Linked DNA regions of Homo sapiens: regions 2 and 3 are each linked to region 1. Evidence: fine-mapped QTL for protein levels in blood plasma. Region 1 holds a variant in brackets. A gene starts in each other region. All regions are shown on their reverse strands. Distances are between the middles of the regions.

The links. PIP is the posterior inclusion probability: the model's chance that the variant is causal. The UK Biobank Pharma Proteomics Project read protein levels with antibody pairs (Olink). The fine-mapping took linkage between variants from a reference panel, not from the people measured, so its PIPs are less certain.
Region 2: GADD45GIP1 starts here. The variant in region 1 is fine-mapped to the plasma level of the GADD45GIP1 protein (UK Biobank, PIP above 0.99).
Region 3: MRPL58 starts here. The variant in region 1 is fine-mapped to the plasma level of the MRPL58 protein (UK Biobank, PIP above 0.99).

Annotation. Positions count from the first base shown.
Region 1 is chr19:5,708,334-5,716,536 of GRCh38, reverse strand. LONP1 (lon peptidase 1, mitochondrial) reads left to right here. Exons shown (of 18, transcript NM_004793.4): 2 at 2,266-2,354; 3 at 3,284-3,403; 4 at 4,535-4,766; 5 at 8,134-8,195. Among named protein-coding and RNA genes, the nearest start is that of LONP1, 7.7 kb to the left of the region's middle. The variant G/A (reference allele first, on the strand shown) is at 4,618.
Region 2 is chr19:12,953,643-12,961,845 of GRCh38, reverse strand. GADD45GIP1 (GADD45G interacting protein 1) reads left to right here and starts at 4,623. Exons shown (of 2, transcript NM_052850.4): 1 at 4,623-4,983; 2 at 7,320-8,203. The coding sequence starts at 4,634. The coding sequence ends at 7,638. RefSeq lists a silencer at 4,677-4,846 and enhancers at 4,275-5,147, 5,247-5,296, 8,140-8,203.
Region 3 is chr17:75,008,208-75,016,410 of GRCh38, reverse strand. MRPL58 (mitochondrial ribosomal protein L58) reads right to left here and starts at 3,741. Exons shown (of 6, transcript NM_001545.3): 1 at 3,539-3,741. The coding sequence starts at 3,724. RefSeq lists enhancers at 2,731-3,413, 3,434-3,513, 3,564-3,873, 3,414-4,097, 3,964-4,113 and a silencer at 3,766-3,948.

The DNA.
Region 1 (8,203 bases):
GGAATTTCTGGACCACAAGTTAAGAGCCTGTGTTAGGGAGTGAGTCAAAACACTGGCTCTCAAAGGATGGTTGTGGACCAGCAGCATCGGCATCATGTGATGCTCTTTTGTTTGAAATGCAGATTTTTGGACCCACCCTAGAACTGAATCAAAAACTCCAAGGGTGGGGCCCAGCAGTGAGCTGCTTAAAGTCCTTCAGGTCATCCTGGTGCCTGCAAAAGTTTGAGGGCCATTACTATATATATATATATATATATATATATATATATATATATATGTATATTTTAACTTTATTATATAATAAAGAATTAAAAACTTCAAAAAGAAAATAGAGATGGGGTCTCACTGTGTTACCCAGGCTGGTCTCAAACTCCTGGGCTCAAGCGATCCTCCCACCTCAGCCCCGCAAAGTGCTGGGATTACAGGCATGAGCTACCATTACCAGGCTAGCCAGGCCATTACCTTTAATCAGGGTCTGTCCAGTGAATTAACAAAGGCTTGAAAGAAATCAGGTGAGCTCCTTGCGCCTTCAAATGCTTCTTAGAAGACATCATTAGCCCTGAACCTGCCGTTGAGAATGTGCTGTGATCCTGGGGGTCTTGATCATTAATGAACAGCATATGATGTGATAAGGAAGTAACTGTCAATGAAAATTGGAGGAACCAGGCATGGTGGCTCATGGCGAAACTCCGTCTCTACTAATAATACAAAAATTAGCGAGTGCAGTGGCGTGTGCTTGTAACCCCAGCTATGTGGTAGGATGAGTTGGAAGAATCGCTTGAACCTGGGAGGTGGAGGTTGCAGTGAGCCGAGATTGCACCAGTGCACTCCAGCCTGGGTGGCAGAGTGAAACTTTCTTTTTTTTTTTTTTTTTTTTTTTTTTTTTTTTTTTTATGAGACAGAGTCTCACTCTGTCGCCCAGGCTGGAGTGCAGTGGCGTGATCTTGGCTCACTGCATGCTCCGCCTCCCGGGTTCACGCCATTCTCCTGCCTCAGCCTCCCGAGTAGCTGGGACTACAGGTGCCCGCCACCACGCCCGGCTAATTTTTGTATTTTTAGTAGAGACGGGGTTTCACCGTGTTAGCCAGGATGGTCTCGATCTCCTGACCTTGTGATCTGCCCGCCTCGGCCTCCCAAAGTGCTGGGATTACAGGCGTGAGCCACCGCGCCCAGCCTGAAACTTTATTAAAAAAAAAAAAAAAAGGAAGTTATCAATCTCTGGAGTGGGTCACATTTAAATTACTTATGTTTATTCTGACATTAATAAAAGCAGAATGGTTTTGATTTTCAAACCAAGACAGTTTGCCCTGGACATCCCCTTTGAAGCTGGATGTTAAATCAATTTCTGGGTTCTGACCATTCGTCTACTTTGAATTTCCTTTGGGAGTGGGGAAACCGCTAAGAAGAATCCAGCTGGTCAGTTCTGCTCACTGTATTCACCACCACAGCCTCCTGGCCTCCAGCACTTTTTTTTTTTTTTTTTTTTTTTTGTTTAGGCGTTCCCAAACCATGTTGATTAGTATCCAGGATGCGGATCAGCATGTCCCCAGAGAATAATCTACACAGCGTTAGAGCGGCTCTGCTGTCAAAAAATGTCAGCTACAAAAGCTACCCTGGGAGGCCGGGCGTGGTAGTTTACGCCTATAATCCCAGCACTTTGGGAGGCTGAGGTGGGTGGATCACGAGGTCAGGAGTTAAAGACCATCCTGGCCAAGATGGTGAAACCCCATCTCTACTAAAAATACAAAACAATCAGCCGGACCTGGTGGCGGGCGCCTGTAATCCCAGCTACTCAGGAGGCTGAGGCAGAGAATTGCTTGATCCCGGGAGGCGGAGGTTGCAGTGAGCTGAGATCATGCCACTGCACTCCAGCCTGGGTGACAGAGCGAGACTCCGTCTCAGAAAAAAAAAAAAAAAAGAAAAGCTACCCTGTGCTGCGTTTGGTGGCTCACGCCTATAATCCCGGCATTTTGGGAGGCTGAGGTGGGTGGATCACCTGAGGTCAGGAGTTCGAGACCAACCTGGCCAATATGGTGAAACCCCATCTCTACTAAAAATAAAAAAATTAGCCAGGTGTGGTGGTGCATGCCTGTAATCCCAGCTACTCAGGAGGCTGAGGCAGGAGAATCCCTTGAACTCAGTGGGGGTGGAGGTTGCAGTGAGCTGAGATCACGCCATTACATTCCAGCCAGGGCAACAGAATGAGACTCTGTCTCAAAAAAAAAATCTACTCTGCATTTCACTTTGGGGTCATTGTCATGCTAGGTTAAAAATAAGAAGTTGGTTGAGCTGCTGAGAAGGAAAGTTCGTCTCGCCCAGCCTTATGTCGGCGTCTTTCTAAAGAGAGATGACAGGTAAGTGTGATTTTTCCTTCATTCCCTTGTTGACGGTGCCCTAGAGTCCAGCTCACCACAAGTCCTACTCTGTACTTTGCACCTTTGACCCCTGACCCCGAGGAAACCAGGGAAGACCTCCAGAATAAAGGCCAGAAGCCACGCAGGCTACCTTTTCAGCCTGGGCTGAGAACTCAGCTTGTAGTACTAAACTTCATGCATTGTTAAGATACGGGGGAAATTAACTTCAGGGACTCTTAGTGATGAAATGCTCCATGAGGCTACCTGAAAGTCGAGCTAGCTGCTCGGAGATGTGGCTCCATGTAGAAATGAGTTCCATGGGCCGGGCGTGGGGTCGCACACCTGTAATCCCAGCACTTTGGGAGGCTGAGGCATGTGGATCACCTGAGGTCAGGAGTTCCAAAGCAGTCTGGCTGACATGATGAAACCTCGTCTTTACTAAAAATACAAAACATTAGCCAGGCGTGGTGGCAGGTACCTGTAATCCCAGCTACTCAGGAGGCTGAGGAAGGAGAATCGGTTGAACCTAGTAAGTGGAGGTTGCAGTGAGCTGAGATTACACCATTGCTCTCCAGCCTGGGCAACAAGAGCGAAACTCCATCTCAAGAAAAAAAGAGTTCCATGCATGCATTCGAAGCAGGCTCTGTGATAGCATAGAAGAGACTCATCAAAGTCCCACCTGGACCATGTCTTTGTGGCTGACTTAGCGAGGAGCCACCCACCCGGTCCTGTGACCACTGGGGCAGCCCTGGCCTGGCAGAAGCTCCCCTAGGCTCTGGAGCTCCTGCGGGAGCCAAGGAGGCCGCTCTTGGTTTTCAGTAGCATTTGGTAGGGGCGTTTCTTTTCTCTCCCTCCTCCATCTCAGCCAGAGACATCCTGCCTAGCATGAAAGCCATGTTCCAACATTCCTCTGTGCTCTTCTCCCACAGCAATGAGTCGGATGTGGTCGAGAGCCTGGATGAAATCTACCACACGGGGACGTTTGCCCAGATCCATGAGATGCAGGACCTTGGGGACAAGCTGCGCATGATCGTCATGGGACACAGAAGGTGGGTGGCTGGCGGGGGACAGTGGGAGGTGGGGGCAGAGTACCACGCGGGAGACCAGCCAGGATGCCTTATGCCCCAGCATCAGCCTCTGCCCTGTCCGTCAGCCCAGCGGCTTTCTCACTAGCACTGAGGCCAGAGCTGGGGGTGAGAGTGAGACATGTCACCTCTGGACCCCTCCTGTCTCAGAAAGGGGTGAGCTGCAGGGCCAGGCATGGTGACTCCTGCCTGGAATTCCAGCACTTTGGGATGTCAAGGCAATTGGATCGCTTGAGCCCGGAGTTTGAGTCCAGCCTGGGCAACGTAGCGAGATCCCATCTCTGCAAAAAATGTAGAAAAATTAGCTGGATGTGGTGGCTCATGCCTGTGGTCACAGCTACGCAAGAGGCTGAGGTGGGAGGATCGCTTAAGCCCAGGAGTTTGAGACCAGCCTGGGCAACACAGCAAGACCCTGTTTCTATAAAAAATAATAAAAAGTTAGATGTGACGGCGTGTTCCTGTAGTCCCAGCTACTTGGGAGGCTGAGGCAGGAGGATTGCTTGAGCCCAGGAGGTAAAGGCTGCAGTGAGCTATGATCACACCACTGCACTCCAGCCTGGGCAACAGAGCGAGACCCTGAGTTCAGGTGGTGCCAGGTGCTCTGAGGGGAGACGCAGACAGCGTGAGAGGTGGAGGTGGGTAGCTTTTGTGAAGTGCTTGGGGACAGTCTTTGCGATGGTGTCCTTGAAATCGAGACCTGAACAACAGGAAGGAGCTGCTATGAGCTGAGTCCAGGGCACAGAGTCTTGGAGACCAGCCTGTGCCCGGCCAGGCTGACACCGTTTTCGACAGGAGGCCCTGGGGCTTGTCACTGCAGCTTATCCACGATACTTAGGATGGGGACAGTGATGCATTGGCGTGGGATGCAGGGAATGCCTGAATCTGGCTGGAGTCTAAGGGGTGGAGGGGACACTGGTTGGGAGGCCCCGAGAAAGCGGCTCACGTCTCCAGCTTGAGGACCCTGTAGCCACCCTGTGGCTCCAGAGGTCTGGGCTCAGCGGGACCCTTGGACCACCTGTGCCACCAGGGAGGCCTCAGCCGGGTCCAGCTCCCAGCCTCAGCGGCTGATTCACACCTGCCTTGCTCCCGTGTCAGAGTCCATATCAGCAGACAGCTGGAGGTGGAGCCCGAGGAGCCGGAGGCGGAGAACAAGCACAAGCCCCGCAGGAAGTCAAAGC[G/A]GGGCAAGAAGGAGGCGGAGGACGAGCTGAGCGCCAGGCACCCGGCGGAGCTGGCGATGGAGCCCACCCCTGAGCTCCCGGCTGAGGTGCTCATGGTGGAGGTAGAGAACGTTGTCCACGAGGACTTCCAGGTCACGGAGGAGGTGAAAGTGAGTCCGTGCGTCACGCAGGGCGGCCACAGCTGCCTCCCCCACGGGCTCCCTTGAGCCGTTCCTGCGGCCTCTCCGAAGAGTCATCTCCCACCCTGAGCCCCTTAGGAAGGGTCTGGCCTGTCTGGAACTCAATTCTAATGGAACATAGAGGGTGCTTTTCCTCCCAGAGGTCTTCGGAAGACTCTGGGATGGGAGAGGCACAGGAAATTCGCTGGAGCCTGTAGCTGCTCAGGAAGGAGACAGGGTTGGAACCCAGGTCCAGCCCCAGCCCGTGTCCCCTGTGCCAAAGCCTCCAGCGGTTACCAAGACACCTTCCAGCCCTGGCTTCTTCCCACCAAGCCTGGGAGGTTGGTACCAGTGGTTGCAGGACAGGAAACAGCCTGTTGGCCACCCTGATCCCCCAACCTAGGCCGTCCTGCCTGCCTGGTGGCACAAGGAGTCAGCTTCCGAGGTGGGCAGGCTCTTGGCGGTGCCACCTGCCCTCCCGCTGTAGGGACAGTCAGCGAAGCTAACCAAAGGCCTGAAGCGTGTCAGCTCCTTACCTGTGTGCCTGGTGTCATCAGCCTCTTCCCCAGGCTGCTGCAGGGCCTAGGGGGAAGTGCTGTGAGCAACTGGTGATGTCTGCTGTGGGCGCTGGCAGGGGTGGAAAGTCCTGTCCACAGGCCCACCTGGGTTCTTGAGGTCAGCACTTCTATCCTGCCCCACTACCCCTGCGAGGTTTTTTTTTTTCTTTCTTTTTTTGAGACAGAGTCTGGCTCTGTCAACCCAGGCTGGAGTGCAATGGAACGATCTCAGCTCACTGCAATTTCCACCTCCCAGGTTCAAGTGATTCTCATGCCTCAGCCTCCCAAGTAACTGGGATTGCAGGCACGTGCCACCACACACGGCTAATTTTTGTATTTTTAGTAGAGACGAGGTTTTACCATGTTGGCCGGGCTAGTCTCAAACTCCTGACCTCGGGTGATCCGCCCACCTCAGCCTCCCAAAATGCTGGGATTATAGTCGTGAGCCACTGTGCCCGGCCACCTGTGAGTATTGAGCACTTGAAGTAGAGCTGCTGTGGCCAAGGAACAGAATGGAACATTTTATTGGCTGGGTACAGTGTCTCATGCCTGTCATCCCAACACTTTTGGAGGCCAAGGAAGGAGGATCACTTGAGCCCTGGAGTTCAAAACCAGCCTGGGCAATATTGAGACCCCTGTCTCCACAAAAAAAATAAAATCCCTGGGCATGGTCGCACACACCAGTGGTCTAACCTGTGGGAGGATCGCTTGAGCCCAGGAGATTGAGGCTGCAGTGAGCTGTGATCGCATCACTGCACTCCAGCCTGGGCAACAGAGTGAGACCCTGTATCTAAAAATTAAAATAAAAAAATTCAGGCCGGGCACGGTGGGCTCACGCCTGTAATCCCAGCACTTTGGGAGGCCGAGGTGGGCGGATCACCTGAGGTCAGGAGTTTGAGACCAGCCTGACCAACATGGAGAAACCCCGTGTCTACTAAAAATACAAAAAAAAATTAGCCAGGTGTGGTGGCTTATGCCTGTAATCCCAGCTACTCGGGATTACTGAGGCGGGAGAATTGCTTGAACCTGGGAGGCAGAGGTTGCGGTGAGCCGAGATTGCACTATTGCATTCCAGCCTGGGCAACAAGAGCAAAACTCTGTCTCAAAAAAAAAAAAAAAAAATTCAGACAGCCACCAGCGGCTACACTGTCCTGGGCAGCTCAGCATTGGGGCATTCCCTGTGAGAATCTTGCAACAGGGGGAAGACAGCGACCAAACTTACAAATGTGATTAGAACTGGCAAGACCCCTTAGGGGCAGCGAACTTGTTCTTTTTTTTTTTTTTTTTTTTTTTTTTTGAGATGGAGCCTCTGTCGCCCAGGCTGGAGTGCAGTGGCGTGATCTCGGCTCACCGCAAGCTCCACCTCCCGGGTTCACACCATTCTCCTGCCTCAGCCTCCCCAGTAGCTGGGACTACAGGTGCCCGCCACCACACCCGGCTAATTTTTTGTGTATTTTTTAGTAGAGACGGGGTTTCACCGTGTTAGCCAGGATGGTCTGGATCTCCTGACCTCGTGATCCGCCCGCCTTAGCATCCCAAAGTGCTGGGGTTACAGGCGTGAGCCACTGTGCCCAGCTGAACTTATTCTTAAAGCAAGTGCCCCGGACCTCCAGTGGGCCTGTTCTGGTGCCTTCTACCAGGGTCAGCTCAGACAGTTCAGCGTCAAAGCCAAAGACTAGAGACCAGGTGATTACGGTTTCTTTGGAGACAGAGTCTCACCCTGTCACTCAGACTGGAGTGCACTGGCGCAATCTTGGCTCATGGCAACCTCCGCCTCCTGGGTTCAAGTGATTCTCCTGCCTCGGCCTCCTTAGTAGCTGGGATTACAGTCACCCACCAAAGTACCTGGCTAATTTTTTTTTTTTTTTTGGTATTTTTAGTGGAGATGGGGTTTCACCGTGTTGGCCAGGCTGGTCTTGAGCTCCTGGCCTCAAGTGACCCACCTAACTCTGCCTCCCAAAGTGTTGGTGTTACAGGTGTGAGCCACCGCGCCCGGCCAAGACCAGGTGATTAAAATTTGGTTGTAGGCAGGTGCAGTTGCTTATGCCCGTGGTCCCAGCTACTCCGGAAAATGAGCGGGGAGGATCGCTTGAGCCCAAGAATTCAAGGCTGCAGTGAGTCATGATTGCAGCCCTGCACGCCAGCCTGGGTGACAGAGCAAGACTTGGTCTTTTTTTTTTTTTTTTTTTTTTGAGACAGAGTCTCGCTCTTTCGCCCAGGTTGGAGTGCAGTGGCGCGATCTCGGCTCACTGCAAGCTCCATCTCCTGGGTTCACGCCATTCTCCTGCCTCAGCCTCCCGAGTAGCTGGGACTACAGGCGCCCGCCATCACGCCCGCCTAATTTTTGTATTTTTTGGTAGAGACGGGGTTTCACTGTGTTAGCCAGGAGGGTCTCGATCTCCTGACCTCATGATCCACCCGCCTCGGCCTCCCAAAGTGCTTGGATTACAGGCGTGAGCCACCACGCCCGGCCAAGACTTGGTCTCTTAAAAAATGGAGGAAAGAAAACACAGTCTCTTTTTTTCCCCTGAGATAGCTTATCCTAAGGACAAGGCTCTGAGGGGTAAGGAGACAGGGTTTGGTTTTAGTTTTGACTCTCTTGGTCCTGTGTCCCTGGGACTGGTGAGTCCACCAGGGACTGCACTCCTCCATCTCCCAGGCCGTCCGTGGCCAGGGCCAGTTGGCGGAGGGGAGGGAGTTGATGGAGCTGGTGGGTGGGGCTCCCAGGGCCATGCTCCCACCCAGCCCACCCCCTGCTGGAGCACTGCTGGGCCCCAGCGACCCTGCCCCATACTTGGCAGGCCCTGACTGCAGAGATCGTGAAGACCATCCGGGACATCATTGCCTTGAACCCTCTCTACAGGTGGGCCT
Region 2 (8,203 bases), 7.2 Mb before region 1:
CGGGCGCCTGTAGTCCCAGCTACTCGGGAGGCTGAGGCAGAAGAATGGCGTGAACCCGGGCGGCGGAGCTTGTAGTGAGCCGAGATGGCGCCCCTGCACTCTAGCTTGGGCGACAGAGCGAAACCCTGTCTCAAAAAAAAAAAAAAAAAAAAAATTAGCCAGGTGAGCACCTGTAGTTTCAGCTACTTGAGAGGCTGAGGTGGGAGTATCACTTGAGTCCAGGAGGTCGATTCTGCAGCCAGTTATAATAATTGTGCCACTGCACTTCAGCCTGGACAACAGAGCAAGACTCTGTCTCAAAATAAAAAATAAGCCAGTTACAAAAGGACAAGTACCGTATGATTCGACTTATATGAGGTACCTAGAGTAGTCAAATTCATAGAAACAAGGTAGAATAGTGACTGCCAGGCCGGGCGCGGTGGCTCACGCCTGTAATCCCAGCACTTTGGGAGGCCGAGACGGGCAGATCGCGAGGTCAGGGGATCGAGACCATCCTGGCTAACACGGTGAAACCCTGTCTCTACCAAAAATACAAACAAATTAGCCGGGTGTGGTGGCGGGTGCCTGGAGTCCCAGCTACTCGGGAGGCTGAGGCAGGAGAATGGCGTGAACCCGGGAGGCGGAGCTTGCAGTGAGCCGAGATCGCGCCACTGCACTCCAGCCTGGGCAACGGAGCGAGACTCCATCCGTCTCAAAAAAAAAAAAAAAAAAGGAATAGTGACTGCCAGGGACTGGGCGAAAGGGAAACTGGGGAGTGAGTGTATAGAGTTACAGGTTTGCAAGATGAAAAAATTCTGAGGTCAGGCATGGTAGCTCATACCTGTAATTCCAACATTTTGGGAGGCCAAGGTGGGAGGATAACTTGGGTCCCAGAATTCAGGACCACCCTGGGCAACATATTGAGACTCTATCTCTACAAATAATACAAAAATTAGCCAGGCTTGATGGTGAGTGCCTGAAGTTCCAGCTACTTAGGAGCCCGAGGTGGGAGGACCACTTGAGACCAGGAGATTGAGGCTGCAGTGATATGCCAGTGTACTCCAGCCTGGGCAACAGTGAGACCCTGTCAAGAAAGGAGGGGAGGGGAGGGGAGGTGAGCCAGGAGTTCAAGACCAACCTGGGTAACATAGAGAAACCCCGTCTCTACAAAAAAATTTAAAATGTAGGTGGGAGTAGCGGTTCATGCCTATAGTCTTGCTACTGAAGAGACTGAGGCGGGAGGATTGCTTGAGCCCAGGAATTCAAGGCTGCAGTGAGCTATGACCGAGCCAGGGCACTCTAGCCTGGGCAACAGAGCAATACCCTGTCTCAAAAAAATAAAATTTAAAAAGCAATCATATAGGTCCTCTTCCTTTGTTGCACATTATGCTTATAAGCATCATCCATCTTCTGTGAGAAGATGTAATATTTGCTCTTTCATTCCTGTGTAGTATTCCATTGGCTGAAACAGCATAATTTAGGTGTCCATTCTACTTCAGATGGACATTGGGTGTGAGCTATTTCCAGCTTGGTAATGACATATATATGTGGTGTTGCTATGAACATTCATGTCTTGAGAAAACTGCAGTTATTTTTTGCGGGGGTAGAGAAGGTGTGCGTGTGTGATTAAAAACAAAAACAACAGGCCAGGCGCGGTGGCTCATGCCTGTAATCCCAGCACTTTGGGAGGCCGAGGCGGGTGGATCACAAGGTCAGGCGATCGAGACCATCCTGGCTAACACGGTGAAACCCCCTCTCTACTAAAAATGCAAAAAAATTAGCCGGGCGTGGTGGCGGGCGCCTGTAGTCCCAGCTACTCGGGAGGCTGAGGCAGGAGAATGGCGTGAACCCCGGAGGCGGAGCTTGCAGTGAGCGGAGATCGCACCACTGCACTCCAGCCTGGGCAACAGAGCTAAACTCCATCTCAAAAACAAACAAACAAAAAAAAAAAAACAAAAAAAACGTGGCCAGTCATGGTGGCTCACACCTGTAATCCTAGCACTTTGGGAGGCTGAAGTGGGCAGATCACTTAAGGTCAGGAGTTTGAGACCAGCCTTACCAACGTGGTGAAACCCCGTCTCTAGTAAAATATGAAAATCAGCCAGGCTTGGTGGCTTGCGCCTGTGGTCCCAGCTACTTAGGAGGCAGAGGCTCGAAAATCCCTTGAATCTGGGAGGCAGAGGTTGCAGTGAGCCAAGATTGCATCACTGTACTCTCACCTGGGAGACAGAGCGAGACTCTGACTCAAAACAAAACAAAACACAAATTCGTTTTATTTATTTTGTATATTTTACAATATAAAATATATTATACATTATAAGCAATAACTCCCACTCCTCCACCCCCAACCCCTGGAACTCCTAATCTACTTTCTGTCTCTATGAATTTGACTACTCTAGTTACCTCATATAAGTGGAATCATACAATATTTGTCCTTTTGTGACTGGCTTCTTTCACTTAGCCTAATGTCCTCAAGGTTCATCCATGTCACAGCATGTGACAGAATTATTTATTTATTTATTTATTTATTTTGAGACAGAGTCTCGATCTGTTGCCCAGGCTGGAGAGCAGTGGTGTAATCTCAGCTCACTGCAACCTCCGCCTCCCGGGTTCAAGCGATTCTCCTGCCTTAGCTTCTCGAGTAGTTGGGATTACAGGTGTGCACCACCGCACCCAGCCAATTTTTGTATTTTTAGTAAAGACGGGGTTTCACCATGTTGGCCAGGCTGGTCTCGAACTCCTGACCTCAGTGATACCTGCCTCAGCCTCCCAAAGTGCTGGGATTACAGGTGTGAACCACCGCGTTCAGCCACATTTACATTAAAAAAATAATAAATGCTAGTGGGCTTTTTGTCTGTTTGTTTGTTCAGACAGAGTCTCACTCTGTCACCCTGGGTAGAGTGCAATGGCACGATCTCAGCTCATTGCAACCTCCACCTCCCAGGTTCAAGCGATTCTCCTGCCTCAGCCTCCTGAGTAGTTGGGATTACAGGCGCCCACCACCACGCCCAGGTAATTTTTGTATTTTTAGTAGAGACAAGGTTTTGCCATGTTGGTCAGGCTGGTCTCCAACTCCTGACCTCAAGTGATCCGCCCGCTTCAGCCTCCCAAAGTACTGGGATTACAGGCGTGAGCCACCAAGCCCAGCCTAATAAATGCTAGTTTAAATGTATAAAAGTAAAGTTAAAAATATAATTTTTACGCAGCCATAAAAAATGATGAGTTCGTGTCCTTTGTAGGGACATGGATGAAACTGGAAACCATCATTCTCAGCAAACTATCGCAAGGACAAAAAACCAAACACCGCATGTTCTCACTCATAGGTGGGAAGTGAACAATGAGACCACATGGACACAGGAAAGGGAACATCACACACCGGGGACTGTTGTGGGGTGGGGGGAGGGGGGAGGGATAGCATTAGGAGATATACCTAATGCTAAATGACGAGTTAATGGGTGCAGCACACCAACATGGCACATGTATACATATGTAACAAACCTGCACGTTGTGCACAAGTACCCTAAAACTTAAAGTATAATAATAATAAAATAAAATAAAATAAACTTTTTGAAGGCAAAAAAAAAAAAAAAAGAATAGCATGGGGGAAACCACCCCCGTGATCCAACCACCTCCCTTCCCCGACATGTGGGGATTACAGGTCCCTCCCTGGACACATGGGGATTATAATTCAGGATGAGATTTGGTTGGGGACACAGAGCCAAACCATATCAGTGGCCCTGCCACAGCCTCTTATTTTTGATTTTTCAATGTGTTCATTCAACATGATTTCAGATTATTCATTGGAGGGCTACTGTGTGCACAGAAGACACATGGATGAATAAAACAGTATGGTTTCTGATATGCAAAAAACAAAAATACAATTTTTACCCAAAGAACACTGAACACTTAGAAAAAAATACACAAATATATATTTGTAGCCAGGTGAGCGTATATATATATGTATATGTGTGTGTGTGTGTATGCATGTATGTATTTATTTTTATTTATTAATTTTTTAGACGGAGTTTCGCTCTTGTTACCCAGGCTGGAATGCAATGGCACGATCTCGGCCCACCCCAACCTCCGCCTCCCGGGTTCAAGCGATTCTCCTGCCTCAGCCTCCCGCGGAGCTGGGACTACAGGCATGCGCCACCATGCCCGGCTAATTTTGTATTTTTAGTAGAGACGGGGTTTCTCCTCTCCTCCCGGAAGGCGGAGGTTACAGTGACCCGAGATCACGCCGTTACCCTCCAGCCTGGGCGACAGAGCGAGACTCTGTCTCGAAAAAAAAAAAAAAAAAAGACTGGTCTCGAACTCGCGACCTCAGGTGATCCGCCCGCCTCGGCCTCCCAAAGTGCTGAGATTACAGGCGTGAGCCACCGCGCCCGACAAAAATATGTATTTTTAAGTGTCAGTGTGCAGAAAGGAGAAGAAAAAAAGTGAAAATTAAAAATGACTTTAATCAGTAACTGCTTAACTAAAATTTAAAGTTATACTTGGAAACGTATAAAACCCATACTATCCCCTTCGCCGCCCTCCCCCGAACTGAGGCAGCAGGGACACCCCTCGCCCTGCCCTGGCCCACACCGGGCCTCGCGCTCAGGCACCGGGCATGGACAGCCCGGCGGGCCTGTGAGGACCCCGCACAGCCAAGATGGCGGCGTCCGTGCGACAGGCACGCAGCCTACTAGGTGTGGCGGCGACCCTGGCCCCGGGTTCCCGTGGCTACCGGGCGCGGCCGCCCCCGCGCCGCAGGCCGGGACCCCGGTGGCCAGACCCCGAGGACCTCCTGACCCCGCGGTGGCAGCTGGGACCGCGCTACGCGGCTAAGCAGTTCGCGCGTTACGGCGCCGCCTCCGGGGTGGTCCCCGGTTCGTTATGGCCGTCGCCGGAGCAGCTGCGGGAGCTGGAGGCCGAAGAACGCGAATGGTACCCGAGCCTGGCGACCATGCAGGAGTCGCTGCGGGTGAAGCAGCTGGCCGAAGAGCAGAAGCGTCGGGAGAGGTGCGTGCGTGCAGGCAGACGCGGGGCTGCCCTCTGTGCCCCGTGGGCGAACTGGGCCCCAAACCGTGCCTACCCCTTCGGGGTCACGTCGCAGCATCTGCATGTTGTAGATTTATGTATACGCTCACCTGGCCGCAAAACAAACTCAGAATAACGTCCATTTAGTCATTCATCAGCAAGTTTTGTTTGTTTGTTTGTTTGTTTTTTGGAGACAAGAGTCTCGCTCTGTTGCCCAGGCTGGAGTGCAGTCGCAAGATCTTGGCTCACTGCAACCTCCGCCTCCCCGGTTCAAGCGATTCTCCCGCCTTAGCCTCCGGTGTAGCTGGGATTACAGGCGTGCACCACCACGCCCGGCAAATTTTTGTAGTTTTAGTAGAGACGGGGTTCCACCATGTTGGCCAGGCTGGTCTCAAACTCCTTACTTCAAGTGATCCACCTGCCTCAGCCTCCCAAAGTGCCGGGATTACAGGTGTGAGCCATCACGTCCGGCCATCACCACCAAGTCTTTACTGAGCGCATACCGTGTGCAAGACCCTGTCCCAGGCCGGGGGCGGTGGCTCGTGCCTGTAATCCCAGTTATTTGGGAGGCCGAGGCAGGCCCCAAAAGGGCCCTTAATATCAGATGGCGACAGCTGACAGGCAAGATAATACCAATGGTGACAGCCGACTAGTAGGAAGGTAAAAGAGTGAAGAGTGTGTGCCTGAGGGCAGCTTTGGTTTGGGAAGCCTCAGGCCTCTCTGAGGAGGTGATGTTTAAGCAAAGACCTGAATAACCAGACTTAGCTATGGGGCGATCTCTTGGGTAGAAAGTTTCTGGTAAAGGGAACAGCTGGGGCAAATGCCCTGAGATACGATATGCCTTAAAGAACAGCCAGGAAGCCAGTGTGGCTGGGGAAAAGGTGAGGGCAGGAAGGTGATGGGTCCTGGAACCAAGAGGGCAGAGGTCAGATACAGAGGCAGGTCTGAAGGACCAGGGGCATCTTTTTGTTGTTGTTGTTGTTGTTGTTTTGAGGCAGAGTTTTGCTCTTGTTGCCCAGGCTGGAGTGCAATCTCAGCTCACTGCAACCTCTGCCTCCCAGGATCAAGAGATTCTCCTGCTTCAGCCTCCCGAGTAGCTGGGATTACAAGCGCCCACCACCACACCCGGCTCATTTTTTGTATTTTTAGTAGAGATGGGGTTTCGCCATATTGGCCAGGCTGGTCTCAAACTCCTGACCTCAGGTGATCCATCTGCCTCGGCCTCCCAAAGTGCTAGGATTACAGGCGTGAGCCACCGCGTCGGGCCAGACCAGGGGCATCTCTTATAGATAATGCCACATCCTGGAGCGTGAAGGGGGTAGGTCAAGTGTGTTCCTGGTGTTTAATCTTCTTGTTTTCCTAATAGCCTTAAGAGGAAGAAGGGATTGCCCTAATTTTAGAGATGAGGAAACTGAGGCTTGGTGAAGTGAAGTCATGCGTCTGATCACCCAGGCAGGGAATCATGGAGCAGGGACTCCTGTTTCTGCCCCTCCTCAGCCAGATGACCATTATAGGGCTTAATTCTTTTACTTTTCTAATCCTTAAATGAGGCTGTCATAAAAAAGAACGAGATCATGTCCTTTGCAGGGACACGACGGGAGCTGGAGGCTATCATCCCTAGCAAACTAACACAGGAACAGAAAACCAAATACAACGTGTTCTCACTTGTAAGTGGGAGCTAAATGATGAGAACACATGGACACACAGGGGAGCAACACACACTAGGGCTTTTTGGAGGGTGGAGGGAGAGGATCAGGAAAAATGACCTCTAGGTACTAGGTTTAATACCTGAGTGATGAAATAAATCTGTACAAAAAAACCCCATGACACAAGTTTACCTACGTAACAAACCTGCACTTGTACCCCTGAACTTAAAAGAAAAAAATGGGGCTGTGACTGGTAGCTACAAACTCAAGGATTGGTGGGAAATGTCTTTCTTGCTTTCACTCCTGTGCCTAGAATTGGGCCTGGCCTCTGTACAGGAAGTGCTCAGCAATGTCTATGAAATAAAGGTGTGAAATTATCCATGGGAGTGGCACTTGGCTTGCTCAGTAGGCAGCTCAGTGAAATGCTGATTTGGCTTTGGCACCTGGGGTTTACTGGGGCTTGACATGCCCTTGTGATCAAATTCATGCACAGGTAACTTTCTCATCATCTCTTCCTGTTTCTTCACTTGTCAAGGGCTTTTCCTGACAGTTAATCTACTGGGGGAGTTGAGGAGGCAGGCTCGTGGGCAAAGGCCTATGGGTGAGATATGGGTGGGTGGGCTCTGCCCTGGCTGAGTGCCAGTGTCACAGCCCACTCTCCCTCCCCTGCAGGGAGCAGCACATCGCAGAGTGCATGGCCAAGATGCCACAGATGATTGTGAACTGGCAGCAGCAGCAGCGGGAGAACTGGGAGAAGGCCCAGGCTGACAAGGAGAGGAGGGCCCGACTGCAGGCTGAGGCCCAGGAGCTCCTGGGCTACCAGGTGGACCCAAGGAGTGCCCGCTTCCAGGAGCTGCTCCAGGACCTAGAGAAGAAGGAGCGCAAGCGCCTCAAGGAGGAAAAACAGAAACGGAAGAAGGAGGCGCGAGCTGCTGCATTGGCTGCAGCTGTGGCTCAAGACCCAGCAGCCTCTGGGGCACCCAGCTCCTGAGGCTTTGTCCCTTCCCAATAAAGCCTGCTACCTGGCAGTACCCCTGAAGAGATCTGCGTCCTCTCAAGGTGTGCCTCTCTGGGTCCCCTGGTTCCTCCCCCAATACTTAAGAGCTGGGGAATCCCCCACTTGGCTGTACTCAAAAGGGGACAGGGACTCTAGGCCCTGCTGACTAACTGGGGCTTCAGTGGGAGGAAAAGGGGGGTGTACAATGGGCAAATAATGGAGAAGCAGATGGCAGAAGAGAAGAAGGCTTCTGTTTACCAACATTCATCTCCAGTAATTAGCCAATTACAAGGCTGGTGGGGGGGGAAGTATAGCCAAAACAGACTGTGGTGATGATGGTGGGGGCCGGGGAGAAGCAGTCCTTGTAACGTTGGGCTGGGGTCCACTGCCTGGAAATGACACACTGGGGGAGGAGACACCGGAAGCCTCAATCTGCAGGGACTCACAGACTCCTCTCCCCCTTCCAGGCACCCGTCACCATGCCTGCCTGTGCCCAGCCAGCCCCCCAAGACCCAGACAGGTGGGCGCGGGGAGCCCCAGCAGGCACAGACCATAGGGC
Region 3 (8,203 bases), not on the chromosome of region 1:
GGAGTCTCGCTCTGTAGCCCAGGCTGGAGTACAATAGTGCGATCTCAGCTCACTGCAACCTCCGCCTCTTGGGTTCAAGTGATTCTCCTGCCTCAGCCTCCTGAGTAGCTGGGATTACAGGCGCATGCCACCATGCCTAGCTATTGTTGTTTTTTTTTTTTGTATTTTTAGTAGAGATGGGGTTTCACCATGTTGGCCAGACTGGTTTCGAGCTCCTGACCTCAAGAGAGCTGCCCGCCTTGGCCTCCCAAAGTGCTAAGATTACAGGCGTGAGCCACCACGCCCAGCCTGTCTTCATTTCTTTTATCTTAGAATTATTTGGGAGTTGGCCGGGTGCAGTGGCTCACGCCGTAATCCCAGCACTTTGGGAGGCCGAGACGGGTGGATCACTTCAAGTCAGGAGTTGGAGACCAGCCTGGACAACATGGTGAAACCTCCCCTCTACTAAAAATACAAAATTAGCTAGGCATGGTGGCACACACCTGTAATCCTAGCTACTGGGGGAGGCTGAGGCAGGATTGCTTGAACCCAGGAGATGGAGGTTGCAGTGAGCTGAGATCAGGACACTGCACTCCTGCCTGGGACACTGCACTCCAGCCTGGGTGACAGCTAACGAGACTTTGTCTCAGAAAAAAAGAAAAAAGAAAAAGAAAAAGAATTATTTGGGGATGAAACCCTTATCCTACTCCACCTGTCTGCAGCACTGAAGATCATGGGCCACACCCTCCTTCCTGAAGCATGTTCCTTCTGTTCCTTCTGAAATTTTCCTCTTACCTTCCTAGGACTCTTTCTCACTCTCCTTTGCTAGCTCTTAGCAACTTTTAAACACTGACATGCCCTTGAAATACTTCTCTCTCTCTCCTCTTTCTTTCTCTAGAATACTTCATCTATGCTGATGAAAATAGCCAGTTTTTCGTTTTTGTTTTGAGATGGAGTCTTAAGGTTGTCGCCCAGGTTGGAGTGCAGTGGTGCAATCTCGGCTCACTGCAACCTCTGCCTCCTGGGTTCAAGCGATTCTCCTGCCTCAGCCTCCTGAGTAGCTGGGACTACAGGCGTGTGCCACCACGCCCGACTAATTTTTGTATTTTTAGTAGAGACGGGGTTTTGCCATGTTGGCCAGGCTGGTCTCGAACTCCTGACCTCAAGTGATCTACCCTTGGCCTCTCAAAGTGCTGGGATTATAGGCATGAGCCACTGCGCCTGGCCAGAAAATAGCCTGTTTTTGACACCCAACTTTCTGGCTCAAACTCAAACCTTTCTTCTCAACTCCACACCCATATACCCAACTGCTACTCAACGTCTCTTCTCAGATGTCTAATGGACCCAAACCTTAAGCCGCCTCAGAGGACTTCCCTTACTAATAATCTGAGGTAGCCTCAGCACTTTGTTGCAGCACCCTGGCCTATTCATTACACTACTTCTCACTACCTGATATTTTCCCTATTTGTTTACTGTCTGCTCCTTCCATTAGAATTAAGCTCCATGAAGGAGAGAGATCCTGTATTTTGTTTATCATGGCTGTATATGCTAGACTCAAGTAGTAGTAGACACAGTAGATATACAATAAACATTTTATTGAATGAATGAACAAATGAATGCTATTGCCACTCTCTCATCTCAGTTAATAGCAACTCAATCCTTTCACTGCTCAAGGCCCCAGACTTGGCTGGGCATGGTGGCTCACGCCTGTAATCCCAGCACTTTGGGAGGCTGAGGCGAGCAGATCATTTGAGGTCAGGAGTTTGAGACTAGCCTGGCCAACATGGTGAAAACCCTGTCTCTACTAAAAATGCAAAAATATGAGTCGGGCATGGTGGTGCATGCCTGTAATCCCAGCTACTCGGGAGGCTGAGGCACAAGAATCACTTGAACCCAGGAGGCGGAGGTTGCAGTGGGCTGAGATCACGCCACTGCACTCCAGCCTGGATGACAGAGTAAGACCCTGTCTCAAAAAAAAAAAAAAAAAAAAGCCTGGCGCGGTGGCTCACGCCCGTGATCAAGACCAACCTGGCTAATACGGTGAAACCCCCTCTCTACTAAAAAAAAAAAAAAAAAAAATTAGCCGGTTGTAGTGGTGGGCGCCTGTAGTCCCAGCTACTCAGGAGACTGAGGCAGGAGAATGGCGTGAACCCGGGAGGCGGAGCTTGCAGTGAACAGAGATTGCATCACTGCACTCCAGCCTGGGCGACAGAGTGAGACTCCGTCTCAAAAAAAAAAAAAAAAAAAAAAAAGGCCCCAGACTTCAATTCCTCTTTTATTCTCACTTCTCACATCCAATCAATTAGCAAATCTTGCAGGCTTTCTTTCCAAAATACGTCTAGGATCTGACCAATTCTCATGACTCCTACTGCTTCCACCCTGCTTATCATCTCTTGCCCTACATTGCAATCTCCTTACTTGTCTCCCTGATCTTGGCATCCTCTATCTGTTCTCTGTAAGGCTCTCTGAGTGATCCTTGTAAAACTAAGATAATTCCATTCTGCTTCAAGCTCTCCAATAGGTCTCCCTTGCGTTCAGAGGAAAGGCTGGAGGCCATTAAGTCCTAGTAACAGGCCTTTCCCCAGCCATCCCTCTCTTTGGCTTTGTCTCCTGACCCCTGCTGAGCCACACCTGGGGATTGCTACTGCCTTCAGGTTATTGCACTTTCTCTTCCCTCTGCCTAGGATGCTCATCCGCCCCCTATTCTCATGACTTGCTGTCTGGCTTCTTCCAGGTCGTTATTCAAATGCCACCTCATTGACAGCGTTCCTAGACAATCCTACTTAAAATTGCAACCCTACTTCCTACCTCTGGCACTACTTCTTCCTTCTTGGCTTTATTTTCTGCAAAGTACTACCTCACACATTCTATATTAGTCATTTACTTACTGCTTGTCTCCCTCCACTAGAACATAAGCTCCACAAGCTTTAGAATTTCAATTTTGTTTGCTACTCCATCCCCTAGCCTAGCACAGCTTTTGTTGAGTGAGTGAGTGAATTAATGAACAAATGAATGGATATTCTTTTCCAGTCCTGTAAGTGGAAGCTCAATGGGTTTGGGTGGGTCTTATCTCTCTTGCTCCGGGGCTTGATTCAATGCCTGCACACAGCTGGCTAAATAAATGCATCCTGAAGGAACGACAGAGAAGCTGTTTTATTCGCGCGTCCTGGGGTTACTAGAGACAATGGACACTGTAACGTCCCAAAGGGTAGCAAACAACTTGGCAGCCTCTTGCCTTTATTGTCCGCCTTGGAGGGCCAGAATGCCCGTATTTCCCCTTGGGACTGGAATTTGGTCTTGAGGGCCAAGGACACGAACGTAGAAAAGCTGGCAGCCTTGAAAGAAGCATACCCAGCCGGCCTTCCGGGCTCCTGCACATCTCGCGCTACAGCGAGCACCCCACTCCCGGCCAGGTTAGCGCAGACAGCCAGCCCCCTCCCGCGGCGACCATCACGTAGCCCCCCGACGTAGCTCCACATCCGGCCAATGGGCCTGGGGTTCCTAACGTCACCCAGCAGCCTGACAAAACGCCCCTTCCGTCCAGTCCTTCCCGGCTCACCGGGACCCTCCAGGCGGTGTCCGAGCCCTGAGATTCGGGGTAGAGCTTGTCCAGGCTGTAGATGCTCTTGAACTCAGTGCCGTCTTTCTGCTTGTGCAGCGCCCGGCGTGGGCACCGTGCGGGCGGTGGGAGCAGCCAGACTCCGGCTCGGCTCAGGCCCCAGCGCAGGCACCTGGTGGCCGCCATGCTCAGGTCTTGCGACTGCTTCCGGCGGGCGCTTCCTCCCCGCGGTCCGCAAACTCGAGCCGCCCTCGAGCTTTGGTTCCGCGCAGTTTCTAGGTCCCGCCGAGGGGAGGCGGCAAACTGGGGTCCCGCCGATGCTTTCTGGCCGGCCGCCTCCGGGAGGCCTGGTTGGCTGGGGAAGACGGTGGCCAGAGAGCGAGCTGCTACCGGAAGAGTGCCCCGATCTTGTGGCCCCCAGAAACACCACTTCTCTCCTTTCAGAGTCCGTGCCCTCCGCCTGGACCGCCCACTGCCCAATTCAAACAGCAGCGAGGCCTGCCCGGCCAGCCTGGGGCATCTCCCGCCCCGCGCTTCCCAGCCCCTTTACTCTGCTCTAATTTATCTTTTTTCTCTTCCTTTACAAAAATCACTCAGTCCTAATTGTCTAATTGCTGTCTCCTAGCCGGAATGTGAGCTCCAGGAGGGCACCGGCTCACTGGTATATCCCCAGCACCCAGAACATGGCACATCGTGGGCACCCCATGAGTACTGATAAAATGAATTCTGTAGGAATGTACTTTTGAAAGTTGGGTTCTGGTAGAGCTGAGTTTTAGGAACGCCAGGCTCTTTTTACAAGGCAGCCTATGAGCAAATTCCCCGCTGAGCACGTGTGTGTACTGGCTTATACCCAGCAGCTCTGCAGGACAAATACCAGATGGGAGGAGAAGGCAGGCCACCGAAAGAAATGTTTGCAAAACCTGGAACATCGTCCCCCGCCCTTCAGCTTTATGGAGCAAGATGATGCTTTCTTCCAGCCAGGAGAGAGGGGGTCCCTCGGGAGGTAGGGAGAGAATTCAGAGAACTGCCAGCTAACTAGAACCCTTTCATAGCGCTGGTAAGGGATGAACTACAGACAAGTTCCAATTCTGAAAAAGGTTCACAGTAGAGCAAGCAGTGTTTGAAAACAGCTAAACCTTAGTTAAGTTACTGTGTTGAGAGGCTATGTGGTAAATGGAAACAAAGCTAAATAAATGTTCATAATTATTAGTAATGCTAGCGATTGTTTCTTAATGAAGAGTTCTATTTTTAGGAACAAGCATAATTATCTAGAAAAATGTGCCCCCGGGGATGCTGGCTGATTGAAACAGGAGATTGTCATCACACCAAGCTTTTACCATCTCCGCATTATGGCTACAGCAAATCTTTAAGAAGGAATAAACCACTTTCTAAGCACTGGCTTTATAAGCTCAGACTAGAAAGGGGTGACAATTGACATATCTCGGGCTCTATCTCGGGTTGGGAGGAGAGTCTCCTGGGTCCCGCGCTGTTTGACTTAGTCCCAAGACCTCAAAGGGAATAGACGCATCTCTATGGCAACTGGAATAAGCTGCTCAGAGGAGCAAAACCAGGCATTCACTCAGGTCGGGGGCTAAGGGGTTATGAGTAATAAAGTCAGAACCTTTCCATGACATCATTGCTCTGAGGCTGGGCTCCAGCTCTGCACCTGACCCAAGGCAATAGGAAAAGGAAGCTGCAGGTTTCCATGGCCCCAAATAAACACAGCCTGCTTGGGCCATCTGGTGGCCTGGATTCTGGGAGAGGAGGTGGGTAGAGGAGAGAATGAGGCAAGCCGCCCTGGGGTGGAGAGAGGAGCAGCTGGCAAGCTCCTCTTACCTGCTGCTGCCGTGAACTATCCAGAATGGGGGCCCTGGGAGAAAGGCCAGAAAGGGGCCACCTGTTCTCCCAAAAAGATGGGCACTAAAGGCTGAGGCCAGTCTTCCCTTTCTCCTCCTTGGTTTTCTATAGGCCGAGATGGTGCTTCAGGGAGGGGACATTCATGGGAGAAGAGAGGAAAGAGGTCATTTCTGGCAGCTGAGGAGCTTGCAGACACAAGCCTTTCTATAGGGCCTATGAGTTGGGGTACTATTCCTATGTAGGGGGTCCTACATAGGACCTACATAGGACCCCTTTCTTCTTCTCTGTACCGCCCTGGGTCAGAAGACCTCCTTTTTTTTTTTTTTTTTGAGATTGACTCTCGCTCTGTTGCCGAGGCTGGAGTGCAATGGCACGATTTCAGCTCACTGCAACCTCTGCCTCCTGGGTTCAAGTAATTCTCCTGCTTCAGCCTCCCGAGTAGCTGGGACTACAGGCGTGCACCACCATGCCCGACTAATTTTTGTATTTTTAGTAGAGACGGGGTTTCACCATGCTGGCCCGGCTGGTCTCGAACTCCTGATCTCGTGATCCGCCTGGCTCACTCGGCCTCCCAAAGTGCTGGGATTACAGGCATGAGCCACCATGCCCCACCAGATGGCCTCTTAAAACTCATCATTGACCAGGTGTGGTGGCTCTCACCTGTAATCTCAGCACTCTGGGAGGCCAGGGTGGGTGGATCACCTGAGGTCAGGGGTTCAAGATCAGCCTGGCTAACATGGCAAAACCTCATCTCTACTAAAAAAATGCAAAAATTAGCTGGGCATGGTGGCATGCACCTGTAATCCCAGCTACTCGGGAGATTGAGGCTGGAGAATCGCTTGAACCCAGGAGGTGGAGGTTGCAGTGAGCTGAGATTGTGCCACTGCACTCCAGCCTGGGTGACAGAGCAGGACTCCGTCAAAAAACAAAACAAAACAAAACAAAACAAAACTCATCATTATGTGTAGATAGGGAATGTGCAATGAGGCATGGTGGATTGGTCAGGACTAAGTTTAAATATTTATTTTTTTATTAAAAAAATAGAAAAATGTGTCCATGTCCTAACTGCTGGTAACTGTGACTATGACTTCATTTTAAAATTGTATTATTATTATTTTTTGAGACAAGGTCTCGCTCTGTCACTCAGGCTGGAGTGCTGGTATGATCACGGCTCACTGCAACCTCGGCCTCCCCGGCTCAAGCTATCCTCCCACCTCAGCCTCCCAAGTAGCTGGGATTACTGGCATGTGCTGGATAATTTGTGTATTTTTGTAGAGACAAGGTTTCTTGTCTCTACCAGCCCAGGCTGGTCTTGAACTCCTGGGCTCAAGCAATCCACTTACCTTGGCCTCCCAAAGTGCTGGGATAATAAGCATGAGCCACTATGCCCAGCCGAGTTTGAATATTTCTATGTGACCTTGAATTACTAACCTGACCTCTAAGTTTTTGTATCCTCATCAGTAAAATGGAGATTTTATAGTCATCTCATAAAGTTCCTGAGGATAGTAAACACATATAAAACACTTAACACAGTGCTTGGCATGAAGTCAGCAGGCAACAAAAATTAGCTGCTGCTAAGGGATGCTATGTGCATGCAGGTTCCTTAAGGGACACTTTTCTTTCAGACACCTGATTACTGTTGTCTTTTTTCCTCTGTAGCCCTGGAGTGGGAAATCCAGTCTGACGAGCTGTATTCCAACCCTCTTTCCTTCTTCCCTGAGGGGATGGGCAGCACAGAGCTGCCCACCTCTCCCTGGAAAGTACTTCCTTCATTGCTACCCCTTATCTGCCTGGTCCCCTAAAACTGAGGCCACCCCCCAGCTCTCAGCTCAGGATCCCCAGGGAGGGCAGAGGCAGGTCTGTTTGGCTAGCTGCCCTCCCTAAGTGGGGTGGTGGGTTTGGCCCTGGGAGAGGAGAAGGGTGCCAGTTCAGGGGAGGAGAGAATGGGGCAGGGGCCGGGGGGCGGGGAGGAGCTCCCTGCAGCAGGGAGTATCTGTCCACAGAGCAAGGACAAAGTGGTGATCAGGAGGGAAGAAGGGAAAGAAAGGAGGGAAGAAGGGAAAGAAATGCATCCAGAGGGCGGTTTAGAAAGCTGAGGGAGGCCAGGCATGGTGGCTTACTCCTGTAATCCCGGCACTTTGGGAGGCCAATGTGGGAGGATCATTTGAGCCCAGGAGTTCAAGACCAGCCTGGACAATATAGCAAGACCTGGTCCCTACAAAAAATTAAAAAAAAAAAAATTAGCCAGCATAGTCCCAGCTACTGGAGAGGCTGAAGAGAGAGGATCACTTTAGCCCAGGAGCTGGAGGCCGAGTAAGCTACAGTTGTGCCACTGCACTCCAACCTGGGCAACAGAGCAAGACCCTGTCTAAAAAAAAAAAAAAAAAGGCTGAGGGAGAAAAGGGTGGCTGGATTCACGCCACGGCTTCCTTCGTCTCTCAGGTGTGACTGCTCCATGTGGTCACCACCACCTGCTCCCCATCCTGGTGACGACAGGTGACAACAGGATGGGAAAACCCAACAGCCACTTGCACGCTGCCCTTGTAAAAGCCCCATGCTGTTCAGTTGATGTACTAAGCACAGCAGTTTGGGGCCCAGCCTTGGGCTTGCCACACCACACTTTTTTTTTTTTTTTTTTGAGACTGAGTCTCACTCTGTCGCCAGGCTGGAGTGCAGTGGTGTGGTCTAGGCTCACTGTAACCTCAGCCTCCTGAGTTCAAGCAACTCTTGTACCTCAGCCTCCGGAGTAGCTGGGATTACAGGTACACACCATCATGCCTGGCTAATTTTTGTGTTTTTAGTAGAGAT